Homo sapiens: one gene and its partners. The protein of the gene in region 6 purifies or fractionates together with the protein of the main gene of each other region. This does not show direct contact. Each region holds a gene or a part of one and is shown on either strand. Other genes may lie near its edges.

Region 1 (3,797 bases), on a different chromosome or scaffold from region 6:
CGGTGTTATTGGGGCTTTTGCACCAAAAGAACTGAATGTTTTGTTTTTTGGGTGGCCTTGACTATATATCAAGACATCAGCCACCAACACAATTGTCTAAAATTTAAGACAATCCTGACTAACAAGGATGTTAAAATACACATTAATGTACTTACATTCCAGGATTACTTAGAGCTAATCCTGCAGGGTTGAATCTCTCTAGAAGCCCTGCTCCCTGAGCTTAGAGTGTCTTAGCACCTGATACCAGTCCGTTTAGACAGGTGTTTGGAGGAACGAAGAATAGAAATGGACAAAAGATCAAAACGGGTCCATAGCTATTACTCAGAAGAGCTGGGCAAGGTGGGGCCAACACCTCTTAGCTTTTCTACTTCACTCTGCCTCCCAGGAAAAAGAAGACAAAGCTCACCTTCAGGCGGAGGTGCAGCACCTGCGAGAGGACAACCTGAGGCTACAGGAGGAGTCCCAGAACGCCTCGGACAAGCTGAAGAAGTTCACAGAATGGGTCTTCAACACCATAGACATGAGCTAGGGAAGGCTGAGGAGGACAGGAGAAGGGCCCAGACACTCCCTCCAGTGAGTGTCCTGCAGCCCTTATTCCCTCCATAGAAAGCATCCTCAGAGCACCTTCCCTGGCTTCCTACTCTGCCCCCTTTCGGGGAGTGCACAACACAATAGTTGCAGATCAACAATCATCACCTGCCTTTTGTAGAAAAGAAAAACAAAAAAAGTAAATAAAAATTTTAAACAGTAAAATAAAAGTTTAACTGCTAAAATGTGAATGTCTTTATTTTTTTGCACAATATCTTTATCTGTTATGTATTTAAGAAGAAACTGGGCCTTGGACCAGGGCGCCCCCTGGCCCATCCGCCTCTATTCCCATCAGCTTTCTTATCAACTTCAGGTAACCCAAGCTTTCCCTTGTTATTCTAACAAATATCATTATTCCTAGAAAAAGAATGTTTTTATAACTTGTTTGGGGAGTAGAGAGGGATATTTCCTTACCTTCTTCCCTAAAATGCCTGGAGAGGGAGTTGCTTTGAGAAAATGCCTACCTCCCTTGAATGACTCGTGCATGAGCTAGTGCTGTCTGTACCTGTCCTCCAGAGATCAGCAGGACCGGAGTTAAATATTTAACAGCAAGTCTGTAAACCAGAGCAGCTCTGACAGTGCCTGCAGGCCACACCCCTTCTCAGTCCTGCATTGTGAGGTCATTTCCTGCTTCTCCCTTTCCCCAGGAAGATGGTCCCACTTGTGCTGCAAGACTCTTTTTTGTTTGGCTTAATTGAGCCCCACTAAATTGGAATCAATCTCTCTTACAGCTTCCTGGCTCCAAACATTAATTGATTTCAGAATTCCCCCAAACTAAAACCTTATCTGTCTGCATTTTGAATGCATTTTGGTCAAAAGTATACGTTTTAAAGATTTTTAAAGATAAAAATGTGGCACAACTGGTTTTTTTAGCTTGCTGAAAATGACCATATCTCTAAATTAATCTTTCTCTCCAGAGCAAGACTTCACCAGTATTTGTAACTAGGAGAAGCTAACAGTGAATGTTTAATTGTGAATTTTAATCATTGCTTGTTAGGAATAATGACTGTGATACTAGAATGGGCTTTTGAAACCTGCATGTCCCAGTGTGAAATTTCAGCACGGCATTTTCTGCATCCTTTCATGGCCATCCAAAGGATTCCGCTGCAGAAATTATTGATGTGCTATTTTTGCTGTCTTGTGATGCAGGCTGCTTTGGGCCCCTGGGTCACTCTTCCAAGGCTGCTGTAGAGCACAGAGACATGGGGCTGGCCAGTGTTGACTGACCTGAGGAGACCCCTTTGTTTGTTGCCTTCATAACTGTCACTAAACCGACCCCTCTGCCCTTTCAGTGGCAACTCTGGTCTAAGGGAACATTCAGCACTCTAGCGGCATCTGATTGGAAGTTCCCTCACCCAAGTAATCTCAATTCCTTCCTCTCTCCATCCCTGAAAGAAACAGGATGGATTTTCCTCTCTTCTCCCTGCTACATTCACTACCAGATTTTTATGCTACAGTTTCATTCTTGATTGTGATTTCTCCATGGAATTTTTTTTTTCTGGTGACATTTCTATCATGGAAATAGGAAGATTTCGGAGTGCTTTGTGAAGATTTCAATTGTCTGTCTCTTTCTCTCTTTGACTTGTATGAAGGAGATTGTACATTGCCTGATATCTCTTTGTAAATGAGAAATATTGCTAACATCCAAGCATTCTGAAGTCTTGCTTATCCTTCTGAGTTTAGTTCTCATTTTGTTTTACATTTTGTTTGGGGACTTGGGGCAAGCTATTTATTAGAGTTTTGCAACAGAGTTCTTGTTTGAAGCCTCTAAAGACTACCTGTAAAATTCAAAGAATAAAATTCATTTTAAACGCTCTTTTAAAACACTTTGGTATTATTGCTTGAGGTTTGCTTATTTGAAAGACCACCCAATAACTCATTGACCCTCCTTGCATCCGAATTTTTTCATCAAGCTTTGTTAACACTAATGATGATTCTTGAAAATTTCTGTCCTTCTCAGAATGTTAATAAACTTTTTTACTCTGTCCACATGTCGATAGAGAATTACTATTTTGCCTTCTCTGCTTATGATTTAATATTTGCAGAGCACTTCATAATTAGCTTCCCCTTCATTATCCACGCATGGATTTTTCATAACATTGTTATTCTCTGAGACCAGCACATTTTTGGGCTGCATCTCCCAGCTCTCAATGTCAGATGTTGTGTGCCCAGGGAATACAAATGCCTGTTAATATTAGGCTGTGCAAAATATAATTAGAAAAGTTAATCTACTGAAAAAAAAATCAGTGCATTCCAAAGTCAAACCGAACCAATTTTTTTTTAATCTACCACGTCACTGTTCCTCTCCAGCGGCGCAGCTAATTGAGTGCTGACAGTAGAGTTTCTTCCTTTTATTTGGTTCAACAGTTCTACAGATTCCAGAGTTCTTGGACTAGCATAAGAATGGATGCCACAAAATATTCCAATTAACAAGCTAAAAAGGTCTGTTTAGACCATGATTCCTACATGGTTCGGAGGGCTTATACGTTATTTCTGTAGGGCTTGGCACATGGGTTGGGAGCCCCTGGGAGAAGGTGCTGTTGGGCCTGCATTGATGGAAGATCTTCATCCATGAGCTGACTGGGAAGGCCAGTTGCTTGCGCTCCAGATCTGGTGCCGGTGATAAGCTGGGTTAGGTTACTAACTCTTTAGGTGGGGATAAGAACGATAGTCCAAGGGCAAAGAAAACAGGCCCAGCAAACTTACACTGTTTGCCTCTAGTTAAATGTAAAATGATGATCTGAACCCAGATTTCAGTCTCACAGTACGATGTTTCAGTAACTGTGAGGTGCTGTTTTCCCACAATAAACAAAGTGGATATTAAAGTGCAAGATGGCACACATGGGTCAGAAACCCAGTGAAGACTGGCCGGGTGTGAGGGCTCACACCTGTAATCCTAACATTTTGGGAGGCCAAGTCAGGAGGATTACCTGAGCCCAAGAGTTCAAGACTAGTCTGGGCAACATAGTGAGACCTCATCTCTGCAAAAAATAAAATTAGCTGAGCATGGTGGCACATGCCTGTAGTCCCAGCTGCCTGAGGTGGGAGGATAGATTGAGCCCAGGAGGTCGAGGCTGCGGCGAGCTGGGATTGCCCTACTGCACTCCAGCATAGGCGACAGAGACCCTGTCTCAAAAAAAAAAAAAAAAAAAAAAAAAGAAGACTTGGGTAATGTTAAATATGACCTGTGTCCTGTGTGATTTTAAAAG
Region 2 (4,680 bases), on a different chromosome or scaffold from region 6:
TGCCGCAGGTACCAGGAGCGCAGGAAGCCTCGGCCGCACACGCCACATCGGTACGGCCGCTGTTCCGTGTGGCAGCGCTGGTGGCGCATCAGCAGGGCCGCCTCCCAGAAGCGCTTCCCGCACACCGGGCAGCGGAAACCCCGCTTCTGCCGATGGCTGCGGCGGTGTAGGAGCAAGTCGTAGGCGCCCGCGAAGCTCTGGCCGCAGAGGCCGCAGCCCAGGGTCCGTCGCACCAGGTGCACGTACTTGTGAGTCACGAGGCCCAGGAAGTGCTTGAAACTCTGGCCGCACGTGGCACAGCTGAAGCGCTCGGGGCCGGAACTGGCACCCCCGCCAGCACCTGCCACCGCCGCCCCGCCTGCGTCCTCACCCCCAGACACCCCTGCCAGTGCCGCCACGGCCGCCCCCACCTCCCCCGCCAGCCCGTTGTCCAGCACGCTGGCCGCATCCGTGCCGCTGGAGCCGTCCGGGGGCTGCAGGCCGCCGGGTGCGGGCGGGAGCAGGCGCTCGGGGGCGGCCTGGTGGACCAGCTTGTGCCACATGAGGTTCTCGATGAAGCCGAAGGTCTTGCCGCAGGCGTCGCAGCCGTATGGCTTCTCTGCCATGTGGACCTCCTTGTGACTCATGACGTGAAAGAGATCCGGGAAGTGCTCGCCGCAGTCCGAGCAGGCGTAGCTCAGCCCATCGGTGGGCCCTGCAGACGTGCCCGAGGCCCCGGGCCCACAGGCCCCCGGTGTGCCTTGGGTGGAGGGGAGGCCGGCTGCCCCGGCCAGGGCGCAGGGCAGCTGGAGCCGGTGCACCTGGCGGTGGCGGGTGAGGCTCTGCGGGTAGCCGAAGACCTTGCCGCAGAGCTCGCACTTGTAGGGCCGCTCGCGCGTGTGCACCACGTGATGCTTGCTCAAGTGGAAGGATTCGCGGAAGCGCTTCCCACACACGGGGCACTGGTGGGGCTTCTCGCCCGTGTGGATGCGCTCATGGCGCTTCAGGGTCTCGCGGCGCCCGAAGCCGCGCCCGCAGATGCCGCAGCAGAACGTCTTTCCTGGGACGCTGGCGCCCGAGCCTCCCGCCCCGCTGGTCCCCGCGCCGCCGAGCAGCAGCGGGTGGGCGCCCAGGAGCGGGACGGGCACAGCGCCGTACACCACCGCCGCCGCGGCCGCCGCCGCCTTCTCGCTGTCTGTGGTGGGAGGGTCGGGGGGCAGGAGGTACGGGCCCGGGGGGAAGGTGGGCGGGGGCTGCGGGGCCGAGGCCGCCCCGTCCTTGGGCGCCTCCGCAGCGGCAGCGGGCGGGGCGTGGGCGGCCTTGTGGCGGAGCAGGCTCTGCGGAGCCGAGTAGGACTTGCCGCACAGGTCGCAGGGGTACACGGGCCGAGGCCCCCCGGCGCCCGCCCCCGCGTGGGCCGCCTGGTGCTTGAGGAGGTAGGAGGCGTCGCGGAAGGCCTTCCCGCAGATGCCGCAGGGCAGGCGCAGGAGGTCGGCCGAGTGCGTCTTCACGTGGCGCTTCAGACTCTCCCTGCGGTTGAAGCTTTTGCTGCACACGGAGCAGGAGAAGGGCTTCTCGCCCGTGTGGATGATCTGGTGCTGGTGGAGGTGACTGGGCTTCTTGAAAACCTTCCAGCAGAGTGGGCAGGCGAACGGGCCATCGCCACCCCCGGTGGCAGGAGGGGGCACCCCAACACCAGCAGGGGCGGCGCTCCCGTCTGCGGAGGGGGCAGGCGCCACGGGCGTGGCTGGAGGGCCCGAGGACACCGTGGAGGGGGCGGCGGCGGTGGCGGCGCTGGCAGCGGGTGCTGGGAGGCCCAGCGGCGGGAGGTGGGGGCCGGGCTGGGGCGGGCCCCCCGCGGCCGGTGGCACGTCCTTGTGGCAGCGGCGGTGGCGGATGAGGCTGGACACGTGGTTGTAGGTGCGGCCGCAGACGCCGCATTCGTAGGGCCTCTCCCCCGAGTGCACCAGCATGTGCTGGACCAGGTGCGAGGACTGCTTGAAGGACTTCTGGCACACGCCGCAGGGGAAGCGCCGCTCCATCAGGTACTTCAGTCTCCGGAAGTAGCCCTTGTCGTCCTTGGTGGGGTCGCAGGCCGCCGCCGCGGGGGGTCCTGGCGGGGTCTGCGAGGGGGCAGGAAGCGGCCCTGGGGCCCCCGCGGGAGCGCCCAGCCCAGGCGTCACCCCCGGCCCGGACGCGGGCCCTCCTCGCTTCAGGTTCCCAAACAAGTGCTGGTGCCCCGAGAGGTCCACGATGCCCCACTGCGGAGTGGGGAAAGCAGCGTCAAAGAGGGGAGGAGGGGGCGCCCCGAAGGCGGGCGGCAGGGGCGGATCGGGCTTCTTGGCTTGGGAAGAGGAAGAGGACGAAGATGACGACGAGGAGGACGAAGAGGAGGAGGAGGAGGACGAGGACGAGGACGAGGAGGGCACCTCCGCCTTGGGCTTGAAGGTGGACTGGGGCGGGTAGTCATACTGCGGGGGAGGGGGCTGCGGCGGGGGCTGCGGCGGGGGGCCGGGGGCGCAGGGCAGGGCCGCCACCGCCTTGGCGTGTTCCCCATACAGTTCCATGGGCTCGAAGCGCTGGTGGTTGAGGAATTCCAGGAAGTCGAAGGGGTAGCTCTGGAAGTGCACCCCGTCCTCGCCCCCGATGCCGCTGCTCCCGCCACCCCCGGCGCCGCTGCCCGCTGGGTTCGCCTCCATCTCCGGCGGGTGGGAGACGGGAGACCCTGTGAAGAGGAGGACGGGGCTGAGGACACGGCCGCGGCGCTGGGTCTCCCCGCAGGTGAATGGAGCTGTGCGCCCACTCATCCATCCTTGTGCGGATCACCCCCTAGCCTTCCAGATTTAGGCTTCCAGTCCCTCTGCCTGTCCACCCCAAAGGGCAGCCCTTCCTCTTGGCTCCCTGGCCCCAGGACTCTCCTACTCACCTTCACCTTCCCTCTCTGTGTTCTCAACTCCCACCCACTCCCCACCTCTTTTCCTTCTCTAATTCCTTCCATCTCTCCCCATCTTTTCTGGGGTCCTGACACAGCTTTGTAGAGGGGACCCTCTCCTCCACACCACCTGCAGGCCCTCTATTATTTGTAGAAACGGGGTTTTGCTTTGTTGCCCAGGCTGGTCTGAAACTCCTGGACTCACGCCATCCTCCAGCCTCCACCTCCCAAAGTGCTGGGTGATTACAGATGTGAGCCAGCGCGCTGGCCTGGGCCGTCTCTACTTTCTCTCCTTTTCAGACTCCAATTGTCCAAGCATCCTGGGGGCCTCTGGACTCAGTTTTCTTTCCAAACCCTCTCAGACCCTCTGCTGTCTCTCCATACTCCTGCACCCTACCCCACCCACAGCCCTCCGTCCTCATCCCTTCAGGTTTTATCCTAAAATGAGCATAATGATAAGGGGAATCACAGTTTCTATCAGCGTAATTAGGAGGGAGGACTCTGGGGCCAGAATCAAATGTAAGCCCTGCCACTTCTAGCTGTGTGGCCACGGGCAAGTGACTGAACCTCTCTGTGCCTCCATTTCCTCATCTACACCTGGGGACCACAAAGCACATGCCTACCTCACAGGACTGTGAGGATTCAACACACACATATGTGCAAGGCTCTTAGGGGGCGGTTCCTGGCACTCTGTAAGCACTCCGTACATAGAAGGTATGGACTGGGCACAGTGGCTGACAGCTGTCATCCCAGCACTTTGGGAGGCTGAGGCAGGAGAGCTGCTTGAGCCCGGGAGGTGAAGGCTACAATGAGCTGTGATCACATCACTGTACTCCAGCCTGGGTGACAGAGCAAGACCTTGGCTCTAAAAACTAAAATTAAAAAATTGAAGATACGATACTGTTATCACTGTTACTACTAGTAGTAGAAATGGGGAAGTCAGGACAAGCCTAGAGAACTGAAAAAAGTCAGTATGGGGAGTGCACTCTTTTAATATTAATAGACAGTAGAAAGGAGAATTTGCTTGCCTGGGAGAAACAAATTCCAGCAAGGGGGCTGGCATATAGTCAGAAGGTGGTCTGATACAATCAAAACACAGACCCTGGGCTTGGACAGACCTGGGTTCAAATCCCATCTCCACTGGGATCCACACTTTCTCCATGTTTAAAATGGGGGAACCCCTATACCGCAGGGAGATTCAACAGGGTTGGAACAGAACATAATGAAACACATGCATCAGCAGAATGCATTCAACCCCCTGAGCTATTTGTACCATCCATGACATCACACACCTGGGCTAAGCCTAGCAACAGAAGCAGGGAGCTTGAGTTCCATCCTTGCCCTTAGTGGGGCTTCTCCTGACCCCCCCATGTCCTTGCCCTTAGTGGGGCTTCTCCTGACCCTCCACCCCCGGCATCATTCTCTGGCACCTCCTTTACACGACTTTTCATTCCAGATGGCAGGTATCCATGTGTGTACCCCACACCACACCAGACCCTCAGCACCCGTAACTGATCTCCGAGTTCTTGGTCTACTTGCTGGCCTGGGGAAGCACCTCCACCAAGTGGGCGGAGGGTGAGTCGGTGAAGGGCCCATGAGGTCTGACCCGCTTCCTGTCCATCATCCCTACCCGATGGGGGCCAGGCTCTAAGCCCAGCCCGCTATGGGGGTCAAGGGGGTTCCTACCAAGGCCTGGACCCTTTATCCTCTATCCATCGGGCTGCTCTCTCCTCCCACAGGTGAGGGGTGAGTGTCTCTTCCACCCCCAC
Region 3 (4,680 bases), on a different chromosome or scaffold from region 6:
CTCCAGTGCCTTCCGCAGAGCCTGTACCAGCTGTGGGGAGTGGCCACAGGGAAGACATGGGAAGGAAAGAGGTGTCATACGGCCAGACAGAGCAGGAAGGCTGCCCTTCCCCTGATGCCATCTGCCCAGCCCCTAAGCTGATGGGGCACAGGGCCAGGCTGGGGTCAGGAGAAGGAATGAGGGTAGGAGCAAGCAGGGGGCTGAGTGCTCAGCCCTCAGGATTTGGTCTGTCTCCTGGCCTGAGCTTTGCCACATGGATGGGGCAAGACTGTGAGGACGAGGCTCCGTTCCAGGACTAAATGGGATTCAGAGGGTGGTCAGAGACAGTGTCCTGACACCTTTGGCCTTCACAGCACCAACAGCTCTTCCCCTGATTGGAGTGGGGAGAAGGCCTGGTGAGGGCGCCAGGAGCCCCCATGGCCTGCCTGAGTTCTGTTTCAGACTTGATGTGTAACTTGGGAGAAAAACTTCCAGGTGTAGGGAACAGGGCCCAGGCTCAAGCTCACCATGGGCTGCAGCCTCTGCCCAGGCCTCAGGAAGTAGGCCTGGCCTCTGCTGAGGGCAGATAAACCCTGGAGCAGCTGGTGGCAGGTGGGCCCCAGCCCAAAGGAGAAGCATCTGATGAAGGAAAGGAAGCAGCTGTGATCTTCAGGAGCCCCTTGTGGGGGCTCAGTCTTACGCATCTGGTTCTGCCCATCCCATACCTGGCTGTCCCCCTGTGCCACCTCATGAGCTCCAGGGTTCGGTGGGTAGTGGCGGCCATGGGTGAGGCAGCAGTGAGCAGGAACAGCTGCCGAGGGTAGGCCCTGTGCTGGGGCTGCCCCACGGCCCAGTCCAGAGCAGCCAGCACGTCTGGGGGCCCACTCGGAACCTGCAGGGTCTCAATGCTCTCGCAGATCAGCTGCACAGCATCCTGGAGCGAGAAGGCACAGGCTGGGACGCACTGGGCTGAAACCTCTCTGTAAGGCCCCCAGATCCCTGGACCACACTCACATCACTGCAAGGCCGGCTCTCTGGGAAGAGTGGCTGCACCAACGTCCCAAACACGGCCAGGTTGATAAGCGTCTGGGGCGGGAGGGACTTCACAGCCAAAACAATGGCATCCTGTGGAGGGCCAGGGAGGGCGGCGTGAGGCCGGCCCCATGGGCCCTGATACAGAGCAAGGGAAGCCAGATCACTGCGTTATCCAGGCTGTGATTCAAGTGAGAGGCTGTGGTAACCTGGGAGAGGCCCTGGGTGTGAGGGAAAGTGTGCCAGTGAGCCCCCAAGTGTGTGTGAGAGACTGTGTGGGACTCTGGAGGTACACATGACTGTGTGTGGGACTCTGGAGGTATACATGACTGTGTGGGACTCTGGAGGTATACATGACTGTGTGTGGGACTCTGGAGGTGTACATGACTGTGTGTGGGACTCTGGAGGTATACCTGACTGTGTGGGACTCTGGAAGTACACATGACTGTGTGTGGGACTCTGGAGGTGTACATGGCTGTGTGTGGGACTCTGGAGGTACACATGGCTGTGTGTGGGACTCTGGAGGTACACATGGCTGTGTGTGGGACTCTGGAGGTACACATGGCTGTGTGTGGGACTCTGGAGGTACACATGGCTGTGTGTGGGACTCTGGAGGTACACATGAAACTTGAGTGTCCCTGTGATTGGAGTGACTCCCTGTGACTGAGTGCGAGTCTATGTGTGAGAGGCTCTTGGAATCCTGGAGAGATGTGTGTGCGTGAATATGAGCAAGAGAGCGTGACAGTGTCTGTTTGGCGGTTGGAGCAGGGCTGCTGTCTAAGGGAATCCCCTGAGGAGTTGCCATCTGCTTCCTCTTTGGAAGATGGTGTTTGAAGCAACAAGGTAACTCCTGGCTTCAAGAGGCTGCCCCCAGCCCTCCTCAGACCCACTGCCCCACCCAACCCCCAGGCCTGCCCACACCACACCCCCACGGGCCTTGTGTGCCACGCTGCTGCTATCCAAAAGGAAGAGTAGCTCCCGAGTAGCTGTCCCCAGGTGTCCGGGCTTGGAGCTCAGGTCTGGGCAGAAGCTCAGCGCCAGCACGGGGTTCAGCAGGATGTCCTTGTGGAAGCGTCGCTGCAGGAACCACACCTGAGCGGGGGAGTCCCAAGTCAGCCTGGGCAAGGCTTAGTGCTACTTTGTTGAGGGTGGGCAGTGGGACTGGCTCTGGGGCCTTTTTCTGTCTGATCCACCCAGAGGGGACATCTTTTTGTAGTAATTCGAATAAAGGCAGGAGCAAAGGCAGGTGGCTGTCTTCTGTTTATATCAGACCTAGCCTCCATCCTCTGAGACACACCCCAGAGAGATTCACATCGGCCCTCCAATGACAATACTCATCTGTCCTCTGTGATGGTTGGTGGCAGCTGTGGAGAGATCTTACCGAGAAAAGAGGCCTCCCCGCACCCATTCCAATGTAAGCCTGCTTGCCTGCTCCTTGTGCACAAATGCAGCCAAGGCCAGGGGCCAGGCCAGGCTCCTATGGCGGTACCTGCCGGTCCCCATCACTGTCCCTTCGCTGTAGCCTCTGAAAATCTCGGCGGGCCCTCACCCGGGCCTCATATTCTGCTGAGCTCAGGCTGCCGCCCTCCAGCATCAGGTGTGGCTGATGGGGCTCTGAGAGGAGAGGACACAATTCTGTCAAGGAAGGCCCTGCCTCTGGACCCCAAGTGCCCAGTTTCACTGTCCAGGAGGAGCCTGCAGGTCCAGCCTTCCTGCACCACAGGCTCTGCCCTCACAGATGACTCAGTCCATCTGGCTGGGGCCCAGAAACCTGCACTTAAGAAATGCTTCCCCCATTCATGTAGAAGCAGGTCAGAGCCGGCCCACGGTGTGTCCCAGTCTCTCACCACTGGGGTGCAGCAGGATCTCCAAGGCCCGGTCACAGTGGTGGCCCTCTGCCAGTGTGACACAGATGGTGGCTGCAGAGCTGGCATGAGGGGGGGCATCTGCCCGCAGAGCATGAGAGGGGCTCTCCAGGCCTGAGGGACATAGAGGCAGGAAGGGGAGATGTAGCCATAACACCTTCCCAGGGACAGCAAATGTTGGCAGGGGTCATGGCTGATTCAGTCAGCTCTCAGAGTCTGATCTATATGGGGTCAGATGGACGAGGGAGGATGTGCCTGCTTTCATGGGCTGGGAAGTAGATTCCAGCAGGGTTTCTGGCTGGTCGAAGAGTCATGCATCAGCCAGGTGCTGATTTAGCATTCACCCCCCACCTTCTGTGTAAGGAAAACCTACTTCATCACAGGTACTAGTCCCATTGTAAGTATCTCTCTTCCCACTGCTGGGTGGGATGAGATATAAATAAATTACCTTGATAAAATTGGGGTGTGTGTGTTGGGTAGAGGTGACCAGGGGATGCTCCCACCACTAACCCAGATGTTCCGGAGGCTGGGGTCCCTGTCTTTTTGTCCTGTGTCCCTCCTATCCCTGAGCCTTATTTCCCTTCCAGTCACTACACTGGGTGGAGTGGGCATCTGAAAAGAGGGCAGGCCAGCCAGATGCACCCACCTGCAAGCAGGCATGGCCCAGTCACCAGCATCTCGAAGGAGAAGGTATATGGGGCAGGGCAGCGGGCAGGGCCTGAGAACACGTCCCGAGGGGCAGCCAGCTCCTCCCAGGCCAGCCCTTCCTCCTGAAGGCTGCCCACCCCGAAGCAGCTGGTGGGGCTGGAAGGGAGCATGAGGAGGGTCACTGGGCCACTGTGAAGGCCCCTAAACCCTCCGGCTGACTGGCCCCAGCCCTTCCTCACCCTTCCCATCCCTGGGTACCCTGCCAGTGCCCCCTCACCCGCACTAGACCCAGAGAAGCCGAGGGAGGGACGAAGAGAATCACCATAGGCCCAACCTGTCGTCACAGAGCCCCGGAGGCCTGGGGGGCCCCGGCGGGCCTGGCGGGGCCAGCGGGGTGAGCACAGTGGGCAGGGCCACATGCAGCACCCCGTCAGGCCTTGAGGGCAGCTCCCGGCTGCTGTGCAGGGTCACCGTCATGGTGCCAGCCGCGGCGATAATGCCTGTGGGCAGCACCAACGTGGACCGGGCCTGGGCCAGATCCAAGACAAGATGACCTATGATGGGTGAGAAATGGGGTCAGAGCATGCTGGAAGCAGAGGAGAGGGAGGAAGCTAGATGTGGAAGCAGGCATTGGGTCAGGGAGCCTGGGCAAGGGGGACTTTGCGTGTTGGCACTAGGCTAATGCATTGGTGACGCAGGATGGAGGCATGAGATGAATGATGGCAGGAGAGGCAGACTAACTGTGAACAGATCTGGCTGTCATCAGGCAAGAGCAGCAGTGACATCCTTGCTAATGGAAGGCTGAGGAGAAGGGGCCATGTCCACTCTCAAGGCCCTGGGAATACCCACACCCTCTGCCCCTCTCCCCCTGCCTGCCTCTTTCCATTCAACCCTTGGCCACCATCCCTTGTGGATAGACATCTCCCTGTGGCCTGGGACCCCACTCTGCTCATAAATTTCCTGCTCCTGAACCATCAGGAGCTCCCCCATTGCCCACTAAGGTGGCTCCAGAATTCTCTACTCCTCCCGGGCAGGAGGAATAGAGAAGCAGGAAGCAGGCTGGAGGACATAAAGCTCCATTTGCACACTGCACACACTGTTTTATTTAGCTCCTAGGTTTGTTTGGGGACTGGTGGGGCTGCTAAAGGAATAATGA
Region 4 (3,500 bases), on a different chromosome or scaffold from region 6:
GTTGCCTCAGCTAGTCTTGAACTCCCAGTCTTGACCTCAAGTGATCCTTCTGCCTCAGCCTTCTGAGTAGCTGGAAGCACAACTGTGAGCCACCACACCTGGCTTTTTTTTTTTTTTATTTCTAATAAAAAAATAGAGTTTCTTGTTTCACTGGACAAAATATGCATATATAGGAAGGAAAGACTTTTGGACTTGAGATTGCGCTGAAGAAGAAAAATGGAAAAATTAGGCATTTTAGTCTCTCAGTGTGTTATTTTTGTAGCTTATACAGATATGTCTTTTTAAAGTGTCTTTAAAAAGCTTTATTGAGATAAAGATAAATGAGATAAATTCACCTACCATGAAATCCCCTTGAGTGCAGAATTTTGTGGTTTATAATATGTTCACAGAATCACACAAACAAGACAGGTATCTAGATACTTTCAGACCATTTTCATCAGTCCACAAGAAATCCCATACCCATTAGCAGTCATCCTTATTGCCTTTTCCCCTAGTCCCTGGCAATAACTAGCCTACTTTCTGTCTCTGAGTTTAGCTCTTCTGGAGGTTTCACAGAATGAAATCTTACTACATATGGTCTTTTGTGATTGACTTATTTCACGTGGCACAGTGTTTTCAAGGTTTATCCATGCTGTAGCGTATATCAGCACTTCATTCTTTTTTAATGCTGAGTAATCTTTTGAATGGATATACCATATTTTATCAGTTCCTCTGTTGATAGGCACGTGAGTTTTTTTTTCCAATTTTCGGCTATTATGAATAATGCTGCTATGAACATTTGTGTACAAATTTTAGTGTGGATGTATATTTTCATTTCCCTTGGGTATATACCTAAGGAATAGACTATCTGGGTCATATGATAATTGTTTAAGACTACAGGCACGTGCCACCACACCTGGCAAATATTTAAAAATTTTTTGTAGATAAGGGGTCTCGCTATGTTGCCCAGGCTGATCTTGAACTCCTGGCCTCAAGAGATCCTCTCACCTCAGCCTCCCAGAAAGTGTTGGGATTACAGATGTGAGCCACTGCAGCTATAAAAGAGGCTCATGCCTCTTTTTACATTGTGTGTGTGTGTGTGTGTGTGTGTGTGTGTGTGTGTGTGACAGGGTTTCACTCTGTCGCCCAGGCTGGAGTACAGTGGTAGGATCACAGCTCACTGCAGCCTGGACCTCCCTGGGCTCAGTTGATCCTCCCACCTGAGCCTCCTGAGCAGGTAGGACTACAGGCACGGTTAATTTTTGTATTTTCTGTAGAGATGGAGTTTTGCCGTGTTGCCCAGGCTGGTCTGGAACTCCTGGGCTCAAGTGGTCCACCAGCCTCTGCCTCCCAAAGTGCTAGGATTACTGGTGTGAGCCACCACACCCGGTTTACTCTTTTGATAATGTCCTCTGATGCCAAAAAAGTTTTTAATTTTGAGGAAGTCTAGCTTATCTGTTTTTTCTTTGTTGCTCATGATTTTGGTTTCATGTCTAAGAAGCCATTGCCAAATCTAAGGTCATGAAGATTTAGCCCTATGATTTACCCCTATGTTTTCTTCTAAGAGTTGTATGCTTTTAGCCCTTATATTTAGGTTGTTGATCCATTTTGTTTTAATTTTTGTGTGTGGTGTGAGGTGTGTGTGGTATGTGGTCCAAATTTATTATTTTGTATATAGATACAAAAAGTTATCCCAGCACTATATATTGAAAAGAGTGTCCTTTCCTTTATTGATGGTCTTCACATCTTTTTTGAGAATCACTTGAACATATATAAGGTTTTATTTCTGGACTCTTAAGTTCTGTTCTCTTGATGTGTATTTCTTTCTGTCTTTATGCCAGTACTACACTGTTTCATTACTGTAGCTTGGTAATAGGTTTTGAAATTAAGTGTAAGTCCTTTAACTGTGTTCTTTTTCAAGACTGGCTATTTTGGGTCCCTTATATTTCCAAATGGATTTTAGGATCAGCTTATCAATTTCTGTAAAAAAGACAGCTGGGATTTTTACAATGATCATGTTTTACCTTTTTTTTTTTTTTTTTTTGGAGACAGAGTCTCGCCATCGCCCAGGCTGGAGTGCAGTGGTGTGATCTTGGCTCACTGTAACCTCTGCCTCCTGGGTTCAAGTGATCCTCCTGCCTCAGCCTCCCAAGTAGTTGGGATTACAGATGTGCACCACTATGCCCAGCTAATTTTGTATTTTTAGTAGAGACATGGTTTCACCGTGTTGGCCAGGCTGGTCTTGAACTCCTGACCTCAAGTGATCCACCCGCCTCAACCTCCCAAAGTGCTGGAATTACAGGCTTGAGCCACTGCTCCAGCCAACAGGTCTTAACTCTTACGCATCTTATGGTTCTCATATGTATAATTGCATAGTAATATCCATTCCAAAGAATTGTTAAATAAAAGAGGATGTAGGTATATATTTAGAACAATGCCTTGCCTGTGGTAGGGATTTGATATTTGTTTTTTATCTTCTTCTGCTAATTAATTCCAGTTAAAAGTGAGCCACAAAACAAAAAACAGACAAACCCAATCAAAAACCAAGAAAAACAAAAACTCCAAAACCACAGACCAAAAAAAAAAAAAAAAAAAACCACAAAGAAAAAACCACAAACAGAAACCCCAAGCCTCTTCCTGTCCCCATCACCTTTCTACGACCCAAGAAATCCCTGTGAGCGCTTGAGGAACCACTAAAGAAGACAAGTCTCTCATACCACATAGTTGTATTGCAAATGCATGTGAAATCAAGGTTGCTATATAGAATATTTGACAGTGAATTTTAAATATTAAAAATAATAAAAGTATAATTGAAAGCTCTTTATTTTTACTCTATGATTCTTGTTTTGTGTGCTGTTTTTTCACTACTTTTTTTCCTGAAAGCAGAAACAATATTTTTTCATTAAATTTCATGGTTACAATCTTTCTTCCTTTAAATTATTGCTATTTTAAAAACTGTTAGCGGGAAGCCTGATGTTTGAACTTAAACTTGGTAGAACATTTATTTTGGTGTCTCTTCAGCAGCTGGGTGCATTGTTATTTTCTAAGAAGAGAAACTAGAGACATAGTATGATACAAATATGATGCTTGGAACATCTCATGTTTCTTGTATATTCACACTGTATTATCTATAGTCTTCCAAAAACAAACACTAACCAGTTTTCTATAGGCATGTTTTAGCAAAATATAAGTATCAATGCTAATTTGATATTCATTTTATGATGATTGACATTAGAGGACAATAATCTTAGTAATTTTCATCTTTACCAAAGTGATACTCTTTATGCAATTCTGTGAGTGCAAAGAATGTTGATATCAAATTTGTCCTAACATTTTCTGAACTACGTCCATAGTATGTTGAAACAATATCATGGTGATTTTTGACTTCCATTATGGCATAGAAATGCCAAGTACGTACCAGGTAAGGGGGGGAAGCTACATACAATAATAATGCATTCTCTTATTTAACATTCGCAGTTAACTTTTTTTTTTGAGACGGAGTCTCTGTCGCCCAGGCTGGA
Region 5 (4,680 bases), on a different chromosome or scaffold from region 6:
TATGATTAGCCATGTCCCCCTTGGCAAATCTAATTACTTAATTGAATATCATTATTGAAAGATTTATAAATCTTTTACATAAATAACAGTGGAATAAAAGCAAATAAACTAAATAATGCTAGTCAGCAAAGAAAAAAGTGGTGATGGGTCATTTTGCAAAGACTCTCTGTATTAAAATCTAGATTTGCATATTTTTAAGGTAGTAAGAAACAGTAAATCCATTGCTAACTTTCAAGCATCACATTATTGACTTTTAAAAATAATTTTCTCTTCTTTTTTCCCTGAAGATAAGTCCCATAGACTCAGCATGGTCTAAAATGTGTAAAACTACCTTGTCAAGTACTGTTATTATCTCTATCATGGGTTTTCTTGTTTGCAGAAATTTTTTAGGTTAAATTCTATCCTGCATGCAAATTTTTCTAAAAGGAGTTTTTTATTCTAGTTCTAAAAAAGGGTGAGTGCCCTTCTCAGCATATATTCCCAGCATTCTTAGGGTAAATTATTTTTGACTTGTGTCCCTATGTGACATTCCTAATAAAAAAATTTCTGAATTTCAAGAGTTTCAAGTGACATAGTTTCAGACTAAGTTTCTAAATAACTAACATGATCTAAAATTTAGCAGTTCTCAAGCCACTTTTACAGTATTGTCTCTTCGATCCTCATGAATACATTAGAACTCTACAAATTGAGAAATATTTATTTTTTCTCATCAAGTTAACAAATTTATTCCTTAAACGTGTGTTGAATCGATACTATAGGGCAGGTCTTTCATTAAATGCTGGAAATGAGATGAACAAAATATAGTCCCTGACTTCCTGAATTTCAGGATGTAGAAGAAAACAAAGAATTACACTCACCATGTCAATTGCTGAAATAAGCCTCACACAGAGGGTGTCAGAAGGGATAGGACCACAGAGGGAGGGCACCTAACTTGTTAAAGGTAATTTGGAGGGGGAGAAGTGAAGGCTCTCAAGGTACATGTATCTCACCAGACATTATGAAGAAGTTGGCCAGATAGAAGGGGAAAACATATATTCCAGTCTCTATGTGCCATCATACAATGTCTTCCTTTCTTACTGTCTTTTACTGTTATTCTATATTCCTAATAGGCATTTATGAAATATCCCACCAAAAATGGTTTCTCAGTTTTAATTAACTCTTTTCCCTACTTTATCCTTAGTGAGGGAAAAAATTGTCTGAATTCTTTGTCCCTCAAGGAGTTCCTTCCTTTTCAGACCTTTCCTTTCACTAAATAGAAGTTTAATTTCTTCTTAAACTCTTCGATGTTCATACTTTGCCTCATATGGTGCTCTGTGTAGATACTTCAGTAGCTTTTAATTAATAATTCTCTGGTACTAGAAGTTTGATCTTTCAGCAAGTAGTTGTTACTACCCTGGGTTCTTCTAAGAACTCCACATTGCGCCGTTAATATGTAGACTTATTTTAAATTCTCCTTCCTATTCTTAACATTAAATATTCTCAATTAATGGTAACTTAAGAATATCAAGGCACAAGATTTGCAATAAACAATGCATTTGATAGGTTTTACCTATCATTTAGTGTGCTTTTCACAAGCACTGACATTGACAAGCATTTTAGTAGTTGCATGGTCTCCTTCAGCCTCTGTGAGGCAATAAAACACAGGAATGTGCTCTCAACCTTCAAAAGGAAAGCTCAGACAAATAGTATCACTAAACTGCAGTCTACATCAGCTTTCCAACCTGTACTTTGTATCATCCTCAATTCATTAAGGTGTGGAGAAAAAAAACAATTCTCCTTTCCATGTTTGTCACAGTTTAAAATTATATTGTTTGTGCAGAACATTAATAATGATAGTTTAATAGTGCATGAATATAATTTATAAACTCAAAAATATACATATGTTGGGTGTATATGCTCAAAATTATCCTACAGGCAGGAAGACATGATCCAAACAGTTTGATAATTACTGATCTAATCATAAGCATCTTAAAGATAATTTACAAGTTATATAAAAGGGTCTTTTAAAATCCCTGTTAATGTTCTTTAAAAGTCTCTGCAAGGCAGTCTTACACAATAACAGGTCACTTCCTCGGGACACAACTGCCTGCTCCTCAGCTCTATGACAATTAGGCTCTGATGGCTGGTAGAAATTTCTTTTATCTCAGTGGAGAGCTGGAAACAAAGAGCTAAAATAACTAGAAGCTAAGAATAAGTCTACAGGACCCCTGATTGTAGCTCTTACATCCAGGCTCTATAAGTAAATCCAGACTTCTTGCTTCCTTTGCAAAATGTAATGTTTTTAGTGATGATAATAAACATGTTTTTTTAAAAAACCTTTTATTTTCATAAACAAATCATGTTCATTTTAGTCAGCTCAGCCTCTTCAATTTAATTCAAGAACATTTTCCAAGAGCCAATAATTCTTTAAAAATAAAAAAAGCCAATGTTTTTGTTATGAAACTACCAGTGATGTTTTAAATGAAAACAATATTAAATTGTTTCTGTCATTTTCATAAGTTGAAATTATATTTTAACTGAAAAGATATCATTAAAGTAATTTATTAACATTATATGGCTTTATCAGTATTTGTAATGAATTGAGCACATCTCGGGGACAATAATAAATGCTTTGTACCTGTTTTCTGTCTCGTTTCCCACTACAGATTCCCAAACAACAACCCATTAGAACATTGGAACATTAGAAGAATGTTAGAACAACCCATTAGAACATTGGGAGACTATGTACACTTATTTTTATATTCTCCTTCCTATTCTTAACATTAAATACTCTCAATTAATGTTATGTTGAGAATATCAAGGCACATTTGTGGAATTTAGAGTTTTAGACAAAAGATAGTTAACATTTTTTGTTGTTTTTAGAAACCTGTAGGAAATTAGCTAATATGTCTATTTTGTCTTAATGTAGTAGAGGAAAAATATTACTCTTGTAATTTGGGATATACTGTGGGAAAATAAGTCGTGATTTAGTGATGGAGAAAGTGTAGAACTTCAGTTTAGGTGTGTATTACTCCCACAACATAGCCCAGAAGTTCCTCTTTATATCTAATTGCTAACATCATTATTGCATACTATCTACATTTTTTTCCTTTGTCATTTTTCTCCTAAAAAAAGAAAATCCCAATCTCCTTAAAAGACACTGGTCATTTGAGGTTACTCTTTAATCAAGATATGGTTGAACTTGGCAGGACCCAAAATGTTCTAAAATGCTGGAATTGCTGGTTCATTTGCAAAATTACAAAACAATTCTATTTCCTACCAGCAAATTAGCACTGTGAGAGATTTCCAAGTCCTAGTAGTGAGCTATAGGCTTGCATTATATCATGCCTAAGAAGATGTATATCATCATCATCAGTACTTAAGCCTTTAGTAAGCTATCAAAATATGGCACTATGCTACATGAAAATCAACTTGGTTCCTCTCTTCTGATAAGTAACAGAATGCTTTATATTTAAAATGATTGCTTTCTATTAAACTGTAATACATGAAGTTGTTTTGAAACATGACATTTGTATAGTAACTTTGAAATCTTTGATTTAAAATTGCAGCTGATGTTCTGAGCGAAGAAGCAATACTGAAATGGTATAAGGAAGCACATGTTGCTAAAGGCAAAAGTGTTTTTCTTGACCAGATGAAGAAATTTGTTGAGTGGTTACAAAATGCAGAAGAAGGTATGATTCTGTTTACAAACATTGATGACCTTTAAACACTGTCTCATTATATGTCAAAATATTTACCTCTTCCACAGATTTTACTTGATTTTCTAAAACTAAAATTCTAGAGTTATCTTTCGTATCAAACATTTTGCCAACATCTTAGCTTTCCTTTCTGAAATCACGGCAATAAAAATCTCTACATGTAAAAACAAAGAAAGAAATGAAATGCTTAAATTATCCACTCTGATGGAGGACAATAAGGAAGAAATGATTAGTAGATGTGAAAGGAGAAAAATACATTTAGCTTAATCACGCATTATGGAATTCTATAGATTTTTATGACACCTTTACCAATTAACTGGCAATTTTAAATAATGGAAATATAAAGTGGAAGGATAATAATGAGTAAGAGTGAATTCAGGCCAGGTGTGGTGGCTCACACCTGTAATCCCAGCACTTTGGGAAGCAGAGGTGGGTGGATCACCTGAGGTCAGGAGTTTGAGAGCAGGCTGGCCAACATAGTGAAACCCTGTCTCTATTAAAAACACAAAAAAATTAGCCAGGTATGGTGGCTCACGCCTGTAGTCCCAGGTACTCGGGAGGGTGAGGCAGGAGAACCACTTGAACCAGGAGGCAGAGGTTGCAGTGAGCCAAGATTGCGCCACTGCACGCCAGCCTGGATGACAGAGCAAGACTCCATCTCGATAAATAAATAAATAAAGTGAATTCAATTAAGAATAAAAAGTTCAGGCCAGGCACGGTGGCTCACGCCTGTAATCCCAGCACTTTGGGAGGCCAAGGCGGGCAGATCATGAGGTCGGGAGATCGAGACCATCTTGCCTAACACAGTGAAACCGTGTCTCTACTAAAAATATAAAAAATTAGCCGGGCATGGTGGTGGGCACCTGTAGTCACAGCTACTCGGGAGGCTGAGGCAGGAGAATGGCATGAACACAGGAGGCGGAGGTTGCAGTGAGCCAAGATCACAGCACTGCACTCCAGGCTGGGCAACAGAGTGAGACTC
Region 6 (4,680 bases):
TTCCCCTCCATGGTATCTGCTTTCTCATTATTCTCTGAGGAACCACACACATAGTCTTTCCCATCTTGAGCTCACCCTAAATCCTGCATCTCCCTATAGCTGCTTCTTCATATTGGCTTGAAACTATCTTCATGGTCACTTTCCAGCACTCCCTCTACAGCAGATGACCTTTGGTCATAAGACCCACTGAACTGATACTCAGCAAGGTCCCTGCCACTTAACAGCCAAAGCTGGCACTGCAACCTTGGCTCTTGGCCTCCCTTGGTGTCTCTCACACCACTCCCGCTCCCTCTGTTTCTCCTATCTTTAGTTCATTCTCAGGGTTATTCATTGTCTGTTCTTTCTGGGTAGGTGCTCCCTGGAGCTCTGGCCTTAGTCATCTTCTCCATTCTTTCCTCAGAGTTCCTGCAAGCTATTTTCCTCACCCATGGCTTGGTTGCCACCTAAATTTATGTTTTTTATATTCAGCTAATTTTTCCATCCTCTAGACTCATATGGCAAACTGCCCACCAGACATCTTCTTCTCTGTGGTCCACAGGACCTTCCCACTGTCCTCAACAATGCTTCCTGGTGGGTTTCTGGGGCTCCCCCTAAAAAGGCCCCTTCCCACTTGGGAGATGGGGAATCTGAGGCTAAGAGGTGGCTGTGAACCCCAGTCCAGGGCAGGGCTGGGCCATCTGTCTGTGCTCACTGTGTCAGTGGCCCTTTAGGATATGCAGTCTAAATGTCCGATGGAGTTCTGCTTGGTGATGCCCCCTATCCAGTGGCTCAGGCTTTCCTTGAAGTGGGAATCTCTTTCCCTAATCCAGAGGCTCTTTGGAGCCTGACAATTTACTTCCCCTGCTGTAGGAACCAAGTACCAGGCAATGCTGAGTGTGGATGACTGCTTTGGGATGGGCCGCTCGGCCTACAATGAAGGGGACTATTATCATACGGTGTTGTGGATGGAGCAGGTGCTAAAGCAGCTTGATGCCGGGGAGGAGGCCACCACAACCAAGTCACAGGTGCTGGACTACCTCAGCTATGCTGTCTTCCAGTTGGGTGATCTGCACCGTGCCCTGGAGCTCACCCGCCGCCTGCTCTCCCTTGGTAAGGAGATTCTAGGGGAAGGTAAGATGGGAATGGAGAGTGGCAGAGGAACTGCACTGTGCTGGCATCTGCCTGACCCCTCTCCTGGGACTGAGTCAGTTTACCCTGTCACTTGGCCAGTGACTAATGCCTTACTGACTTTAGGACCAGTCCAGCTTCTTACTAGCTCCTTACCCACCTCAATCCTGGCCTTAGGTTTGCGCAGTCGCTGATAGATACGCTCAGGCCTGTGGCACTTGTGGGCCTTTTTAATAAGGACTCTGTTATGGTGTATCTGTCACCATGCAGGACTACACAGGGTGGAACCTTTACTACATCAGGAGCAGCTCAGGAGTCAGGTTGTACTTTAGGATTGTTACAGTGACAAACAGTAGCGGTGCTATTAGAGGCCTGAGGTCTAATAGTAGGACTTCATATGGCATTGATACTTTGTGTGCCTTGTGCTGTTGGACTGAAGAAGGCCAAAAGCACTGTGCCTTTAAAACTCATCTACCTTTTTTTTTTTTTTTTTTTGAGACAGAGTCTCACTCATCCAGCCTGGAGAGCAGTGGCACGATCTCAGCTCACTGTAACCTCCGCCTCCCGGGTTGATGAGATTTTCCTGCCTCAGCCTCCCAGGTGGCTGGGATTACAGAGGCACATGCCCCATGTTGTATTTTCTTTAGTAGAGATGAGGTTTTACCATGTTGGTCAGGCTGGTCTCGAACTCGTGACCTCACGTGATCCACCCGCCTCGGCCTCCCAAAGTGCTGGGATTGCAGGTATGAGCCACCGCACCTGGCCTCTGTTGGTTTTCCAGTTACGACCAGCGTACTCTGGTTAGATGCTGTGGAAGGTAGAATGCAGCATGCAGGTGAGCTGCTGGGAGAGAAACCCTTACAGAATAATTTCTCTAAATGACCTAACAGATGTTTGTGGTTTCCTTTTCCTTCTCATTCCTTGCATTTTCTAGACCCAAGCCACGAACGAGCTGGAGGGAATCTGCGGTACTTTGAGCAGTTATTGGAGGAAGAGAGAGAAAAAACGTTAACAAATCAGACAGAAGCTGAGCTAGCAACCCCAGAAGGCATCTATGAGAGGCCTGTGGACTACCTGCCTGAGAGGGATGTTTACGAGAGCCTCTGTCGTGGGGAGGGTGTCAAACTGGTGAGATGTGTGAGGGGGCTAGGGTGCCAAAGCTGTGGACCTGGACTCTGGCTCTGGGCAGGCAGATTTGGGGAAGGTGTTCTTTATTCTGTAGGTACTTTTCTCAGTATATCCCCCAGTTTTTCATGGCATCTCCTGAGGCTGACATGTGGATATTCTCTGAGGTGTAGGAAAGGAGACTCTCTCCCCTCGTGCCCCAGGTAGAGTGTTGCTCCTCTAAGTTACCAGTGAGCTCGCCTCCTTACCCCAATATGTCCCACTTTTTGCTTCACTCACTGTTGGGAAGAAAACAATGGGTGGACGTACCTCAGGCCCCAAAAGAAGTCATGGTATAAGTGGAGAGTAAGTCTCTGTGGTAAAGACACCAGCGTGTACTAGAGCTTGGTATCGAGCCTTTGAGAGCCCTGGGATCCTAGTGCTTCCTGAGGAGGCCCAGGTGTGACAGGCTCTGAGCCTTTTCCATGCCCCTGTCTGCATGGCTTCTACTGGCTCCTCCACCAAGAAAGGTTTCTCCCCTGTCCCAGCCCTTCAGACCTACTCAAGTCTTCACGAAAAGGGTCAGGAATTACTTTCTGCCATGGGACTTGAGGATGTGAGGTGATTTTGGGAGAGAAGAAAAATTGCATGATTTGTGGGGTGTTATTTCATGCCAGTTAAGCTGAAGGGGCTCTCCTCTCCTCTCCCCTCCCCCCATTCCCCCCTCTCCTCCCCTCCCCCCCTCCCCTCCCCCTCCCCTCCCCCTCCCCTCCCCCTTCTCCTCCTCTCTCCTCCCCTCCCTCCCTCCCTTCCTTTCTTCCTTCCTTTTTCTTCTCTTTTTCCTGTTTCCTCTTTTTCCTTTTCTTTTCTTTCTTTCGTCTCACCCTGTCGCCCAGGCTGGTGTGCAGTGGTATAATCATAGCTCACTGCAGCTTTGACCTCCCAGCCTTGAGCAATCCTCCTGCCTCAGTCTCCTGAGTAGCTGGGACTACAGGTATGCACCATCATGCCTGGCTAATTTTTTAGAGACAGGTCTATGTCATCTAGGCTGGTCCCAAACTCCTGGTCTCAAGCTATCCTTTGGCCCCCCAGAGTTCTCGGATTACAGGCATGAGCCACTGTGCATGCCCACCTGCTGGGACTTTTGTTTTCTTCTGTGGTGTGGTGGGAGGGAGCAGCTGCTGGCCATGAGGTGAGTCCAGTGTCTGCAGACAGCCAGACTGGGACCGAGGATTAGGACTCACTCAGCTCAGGGCCTGTTACTCTGTGCTTTCCAGACACCCCGTAGACAGAAGAGGCTTTTCTGTAGGTACCACCATGGCAACAGGGCCCCACAGCTGCTCATTGCCCCCTTCAAAGAGGAGGACGAGTGGGACAGCCCGCACATCGTCAGGTACTACGATGTCATGTCTGATGAGGAAATCGAGAGGATCAAGGAGATCGCAAAACCTAAAGTAGGTGTCACTGTAGGTCCTTCTCGGGTCACTGAAGGGGGAAGGTCCTTTTTCTCATCCCTAGCACTATGGGTGGTTGGTTTGCCCATCTAGCCACCCTTTATCCATATCTAGCATGGGCCTACCGTGGGGATACAGAGATGCTTCAGACTCAGCCTGACCTTGTGAGTTCATGGTCCAGTGGAAGAAGAACAGGGTAACCAATGTGGACAGCCAAGTGCTATCATAGAAGGTCACGCTGGGAACAGGGCAGGTCTACACTGGTGTGTCAGTTCACCTGGTTGGGAGACTGGTGCGTGGGTGAGTTTTTTGGAAATGTTCCATAGGATGCTATGAAGCTGGGTCCTGTGGAGCTCCTGATTAGGACTGTAAATGAGGTGAATGACTTAGAGGAGAATGTATATCTTTATAATATTGGGTCTTCTCATCCAAGGGCATGACAGGTCTCTCCATATCTTTTTAAGTTTTCTTCATATAAGCCTTGAACATTTCTTAAGTTTATTCCTTGGTAGTTTCTTTGTTACTGTTAATTTACTTTATTTCTTCATTATTATTTTTAACTGGTTACATTATTTTATTAGTTTACTATTATATGCCAAACTATTGATTTTACAAATACATTTCATAGTAAGAGCTAATGTTTACTGAATTCTTAACTGTGGCAGGAACTTCTAAGTGCTTAACATATATATTAAGTGTTATGTCACAGTTATGAACAGCTGCTCATAATGATGTCACTGTCTCTGTTTTACCTATGAAAAAGCAAACTCATACAGATTGCAGCTAGTGGTTGAATTTACTTATTTCTTTTTTGGTTTTTAGCTGATTTCTCTTTGGTTGCCTGGATAGCATTAACACCTGGAAATAAGGAAAATTTTATTTTCTCCTGATACTTGTAGTTCCTTTGTTTTTATAACCTTATTGAATTGCCCAGAACTTCTAGAGCATAATTACGTAGAATAGGCATCCTTGTCTCATTCCTGAATTTCCTGGAAATTCCTATGGTATTTTACTG
Region 7 (4,259 bases), on a different chromosome or scaffold from region 6:
TCAGGGTAATTTGGAAAAGTATAATAAACCTTTTTAATTCTCTTTTTTCTTCATTTTGTTCTGCTTTCAAATATGCAGCTCTTTAAGATCTGAAATGGATTATACAGAAATATGTAAGGCCCAGCTGAAACCTGACCCTCCTGCTAACTGTGTTGTTTTCACATCTGATAAATCCTTTACCTGAGATGAGGGAAAAACAACTCCAAAATACATAATAACAAATAAGGCAGCAAAATGGAAGAAGCAAGACACCCTTGTCTGTTTTTCCAACGTGTTTTTAAATAAAAATTATCAATAATAATCTTTGTATTTAACTGTTTATTTAAGCTGGAAGATTATTAGTATACATACCCCAGAGGAGAATATGTTCTGTTCCGATTTTTTCTAATTTTGTAATTACATTATGAATTCCTTAAAGACAAAGAATCTTATTCATCTTTGTGGTTTCCCAGCACACAGTAGGTACTTAACCCATGTCTACAGAATGGAATCTCCTAAAATAGTCTAGGGTTCAACCCAAAGACAAAAGCTACTAGCAAGGAACTGAACTGGGAAGTTGCCAGTGGCAAAACATAAAAAGAGTTGACTCTGAAGTACATAATTTATTGTAAGCCAACAGCCTAGGCCTCAGGAAAAATGGAGGGGGATAGGAGACTGTCCTGCGTCGGAATGCAAAAATGAGCCAAAGGTCGAGGCCTCTTTGAGAAAAGAAACTGACAATCTCCAACGATGACTTTCCAAATTATTGGCACAAAGCATGAGGGCAGCTTTCCTCAGCCTGTGTGTAAATTGCATTTTAAATGTCTGATGAGCAGGCGTGCCAAATTGCCTGGAGCTCCTTTTTATGAAGCCAAGATTAAAATTTTGGCACTGCCCTAAGTATCTAAGGGGTCTAGCAATTTCTTTCTTCCTAATTAACAACTGTTTGACATTTCTAACCCTCTTCTACATCAGTGAAAAGCAAGAGGTGAGACTGGCCCATTGTTCCAATCATCTTGCCTTAACTTTGGTATAATAATTTCCAACTCAGTTGGCAGTCGTGCTCGCGAGAAGTTAAAGGCGAACAATCGACCCACCGAAAAGCTGTGCGCAGATTTTTTTTTAACAGCTGAACTCAACGAAAACCTGAGTGGTAACACTTTTGCTGGGTCTCGATCGCCACCTGTCGCTTTCCCGACTTAGCTGCAAGAATGAATCATCTCGCGCCGGGATATCGGAACGCCAGCCAGCCAAGCATCCCGTCAATATATGTTTTAAAAAAGAAAATGCTTTCTCTCCTTTTTAGCCAAAACATTCATTTGAATGCTTAGCAACACTTCATTGAGCATTCTCAGACATAAATATCTGAAAGCGGCCGCCCCTACGTGGCAGCGAGGACTCCCTCACTTCACCCTCATGAATAAAAATGAGTCCACTGGGGTGGGAGTGGGGGCTAAGTGGACTCGTCCCCTTCTGCCAACTCGCCCCCTCCCAATTCCCTGCTGGAAGAACCCAATTCCTTAACTCCCGCGTCCAGTTAAAAAGAAAATCACACACACACACACACACCGCGTGCGCGTCGCCTACCTCCTCTCCCACCCACCACGACCTTGGCATTAGCCAAAGGAGAGCTTAGCGTTTATTTCCTTTCCTGCCCTATCCTTCCCCAGCATTCACTAGAAGACTACAGAGTCCGGATCGAGAGTCTCCCTGGCCCAGAGTCCCAGGGAGCCCTGAACTGGTCACTGAAGGGCTCCCGAGGTCGCCCGCTTGGGGGTACCTGTTCCGCTCGCTGAACGAGTCCGGCGACCCACGCTTTCTGATCCCCACAAGTCTAGGATCTGAGTGGGAAACCGCCGCGGAGATCTCACAGACCCCGAATAGGGCCTCCACCAATGCACCGGGAGGGAGTCGGAGAGGGGACTTTCTCCCGGAGCTGGGAAAAGTCCGCCAAGAATGAGTACCCTAGTGCTGCCTAACCCACCATCTCGGATGCTCTGAAAGGTAGGGGAGGAAGGAGCCAGAACACTCCACTAGGAATCTGTTACGAGATGCCACACACACCCGTGCAGCCTCGACGAGCTGCAGAGCACTCAGCGGGCCCTCCAAAGAATTCCGCACCGTGCGTCACCAAAATACCTTCCCAGCGCCCCCGCCGCACGCCTGCCCTCCCCGACAAAGCCACAGCCGCGAGATAACCAGGGCCCTGCTGCCCCAGAACCCGGCGCGCCCTCCATTGAAATCGACAGCATCTACAGATGAAACTCCTCTAGAAACGGAAACACTGAACGGGATGCTTTGCGTGCACAAAACCTTGCTCAGCTCTTAAGAAAAGCAACATTCCCCTCTCCCTCAAAAACCCCAAAGAATCACCAAATCCCAGTATACAAGGCAACGCTCTAGCCCACCTACACTATTACAAGTCCAAACTGTCCTCGCCCAGGATTCTTCACCGCTCCGGGCAAGGTGCAAGCTAGACGCCGTTTCCCGAGTTGTCTCTGGGAATGATGGGGGTAGGGGAAAGGGGACAGAAACCAGGCTGACCTGAGGCGGCGGCAACAGGGAGAGGTAGCGGCGGCGACAGCGGCTTCCCGGCGTCGGAGAAGCTGGTGCTCGGTGTGGCCCCCACACGCCCCGGCGATAGGCGCTGCACTCCAGGAGCACCTGGCGGCCGCCGAGGCGTGGGCAGCTGCGGGGAAGTCCAGGAGGAGGAGGAGAATCCCAGGAGGAGAGGCGGGCGCGGCAGGAAGACTGGAGATGGCCTGAGCCTGCAGCTGCCGGCGCGCGGACGCGTCTGGGGCGGTTCGCCTTAGCCAAGTGGAAAGAGACTCCGCGCCGCGGGCTACTTAATAGAGGGCTGTTCCCAGCTCTCAGTTTACTCGGTTACGAAACGCCTGAGAAGGTGGACGGCTGCCACGGGGTGATGTATGCTCCTCCGGCGGTGAAGGAGGTCTACTTTTGGGAACGTGTGCATACTTCGAGCATTCCTTCGGCGTGAGGTGGCGATCGCCGTAGTAGCAGTGCCCCGCTGGGGGGCGGGGAGAAGGGAGGGAGCGTAGAGGGGGACAGCCGCAGCCGGGTTCCCTGCCAAGGGAAGCCGCGTACTCCGCCACTTGGGGCGGACTGGGATTTCTTTAATGAAGCTCGGGTTTCCCTATCCCTGAGATTTCTTTAATGAATTTTTCTACATTAAGAACAATGGGGAGGGGACCGACTCCCATTTTCGGAAATGCAAGGATGCGTAACCCATTCACCCCCGCTCCTGCGGATCTCCATCCTTCATCTGATATCACCACCTCCATCTTCCTCCCCCTCTGTCCTGGGTGCACTTAAAACCGATTTACAGGATTTCCATTAACTAACTGTCTGTACACGCGGCGCGCCTTCTGTCTTTTTCAATCTCCAAGCGCGATTGGAAACCCGGACAGCCGCCCGCGCGGGGCTCAGTGATGGGATGGCTTTCCCAGTCCTTTCTCACTCCCCTGGTGCTTCAGGACGGAACTGGGAGGCTTAAGTTGAGCCAAAAGAGAGGGAGAGGAAACCTATGAAACCCAGGAGTTCTCAGAATAGGAAGCCGCTCAGTAACAAGTTGCATCCACTGCAGAAACTTCTCACCCGGACCAGAGCAAAACCTGGCCCCGAGCGGAGGCTTCGGACTGAAAGCTCTGCCCTTAAAACCTCGCGGAGCCAAAGGGGCGAAGAGGAGTAAGTTTGAAACCCCAAAGCACCCCTCCACACACAGTACTGGAGAAGCCAAATAGGGGGCTGATATTCTACCAACAACGTCGCCTCTTCTTACAGCCCCCTCCATCCTGGCATCCTACCCCTTGTTCCTGGGCAGGGAGTCTGGTACTCAGGGTTGCCAGATTGTACAAGGCGCACGGGAGGAAGCTTCGAGCGCTCACACCAAGAAATCAGAAAAATGCTACTGGAGAGATTCTGATTATAACGTCTGACCTCAGTATAGGCCCTGCACCGTTTTGGCCTCTTGAAGCCCAAAGGTTACTCCTGTAACGCTGGGGGAGCGTTGAACAACAAAGGACCGGGGTGGGGCGCAAGGGAACAGAGGAGCTGCTTCTCTGGAACTAACCGCCCGCCATAGTAGAATCGGAGGGCATGTTCCCAATGTAAATCTCTCTTCCCCATTGGCTCTGACGTCTGCAAATTTGGCCTTCCCTCTCCACTAGGCGTGATAGCCTCCAAACTTGCCTTTCGACTGACAAGAACTTGTAGGGCGCTCCCCTTTCTGCACATCTCCCCACACACAGGCTGCCTCCAGC

The links.
Region 1: the proteins of P4HA2 (region 6) and SIPA1L1 purify together in Homo sapiens (co-immunoprecipitation; one large-scale study listed by IntAct). This does not show direct contact.
Region 2: the proteins of P4HA2 (region 6) and ZNF865 purify together in Homo sapiens (affinity purification with mass spectrometry; one large-scale study listed by BioGRID and IntAct). This does not show direct contact.
Region 3: the proteins of P4HA2 (region 6) and VWA5B2 purify together in Homo sapiens (co-immunoprecipitation; one large-scale study listed by IntAct). This does not show direct contact.
Region 4: the proteins of P4HA2 (region 6) and TTC28 purify together in Homo sapiens (affinity purification with mass spectrometry; 2 studies listed by BioGRID and IntAct, with this or other methods). This does not show direct contact.
Region 5: the proteins of P4HA2 (region 6) and BZW2 fractionate together in Homo sapiens (co-fractionation; one large-scale study listed by BioGRID). This does not show direct contact.
Region 7: the proteins of P4HA2 (region 6) and COL12A1 purify together in Homo sapiens (co-immunoprecipitation; 2 studies listed by BioGRID and IntAct, with this or other methods). This does not show direct contact.

What each region holds. Positions count from the first base shown.
Region 1 is NC_000014.9:71,738,633-71,742,429, forward strand, and holds the end of SIPA1L1 (signal-induced proliferation-associated 1-like protein 1), read left to right. Parts: intron 1-385; coding exon 386-529; 3' UTR 530-2,577; downstream 2,578-3,797.
Region 2 is NC_000019.10:55,611,617-55,616,296, reverse strand, and holds part of ZNF865 (zinc finger protein 865), read right to left. Parts: intron 2,705-4,680; 5' UTR 2,679-2,704; coding exon 1-2,678. UniProt on the Homo sapiens protein: May be involved in transcriptional regulation.
Region 3 is NC_000003.12:184,232,576-184,237,255, reverse strand, and holds part of VWA5B2 (von Willebrand factor A domain-containing protein 5B2), read right to left. Parts: intron 4,079-4,680; coding exon 3,859-4,078; coding exon of another isoform or gene 3,847-3,858; exon of another isoform or gene 3,802-3,846; intron 3,681-3,801; coding exon 3,523-3,680; intron 2,991-3,522; coding exon 2,859-2,990; intron 2,626-2,858; coding exon 2,501-2,625; intron 2,104-2,500; coding exon 1,948-2,103; intron 1,105-1,947; coding exon 994-1,104; intron 914-993; coding exon 705-913; intron 619-704; coding exon 507-618; intron 31-506; coding exon 1-30.
Region 4 is NC_000022.11:28,673,341-28,676,840, reverse strand, and holds part of TTC28 (tetratricopeptide repeat protein 28), read left to right. Parts: intron 1-3,500. UniProt on the Homo sapiens protein: During mitosis, may be involved in the condensation of spindle midzone microtubules, leading to the formation of midbody.
Region 5 is NC_000007.14:16,700,999-16,705,678, forward strand, and holds part of BZW2 (eIF5-mimic protein 1), read left to right. Parts: intron 1-3,548; coding exon 3,549-3,671; intron 3,672-4,680. UniProt on the Homo sapiens protein: Translation initiation regulator which represses non-AUG initiated translation and repeat-associated non-AUG (RAN) initiated translation by acting as a competitive inhibitor of eukaryotic translation initiation factor 5 (EIF5) function.
Region 6 is NC_000005.10:132,206,693-132,211,372, reverse strand, and holds part of P4HA2 (prolyl 4-hydroxylase subunit alpha-2 isoform 2 precursor), read left to right. Parts: intron 1-849; coding exon 850-1,089; intron 1,090-2,041; coding exon 2,042-2,235; intron 2,236-3,488; coding exon 3,489-3,665; intron 3,666-4,680. UniProt on the Homo sapiens protein: Catalyzes the post-translational formation of 4-hydroxyproline in -Xaa-Pro-Gly- sequences in collagens and other proteins.
Region 7 is NC_000006.12:75,203,254-75,207,512, forward strand, and holds the start of COL12A1 (collagen alpha-1(XII) chain long), read right to left. Parts: upstream 2,801-4,259; 5' UTR 2,524-2,800; intron 2,087-2,523; exon of another isoform or gene 1,760-2,086; intron 1-1,759. UniProt on the Homo sapiens protein: Type XII collagen interacts with type I collagen-containing fibrils, the COL1 domain could be associated with the surface of the fibrils, and the COL2 and NC3 domains may be localized in the perifibrillar matrix.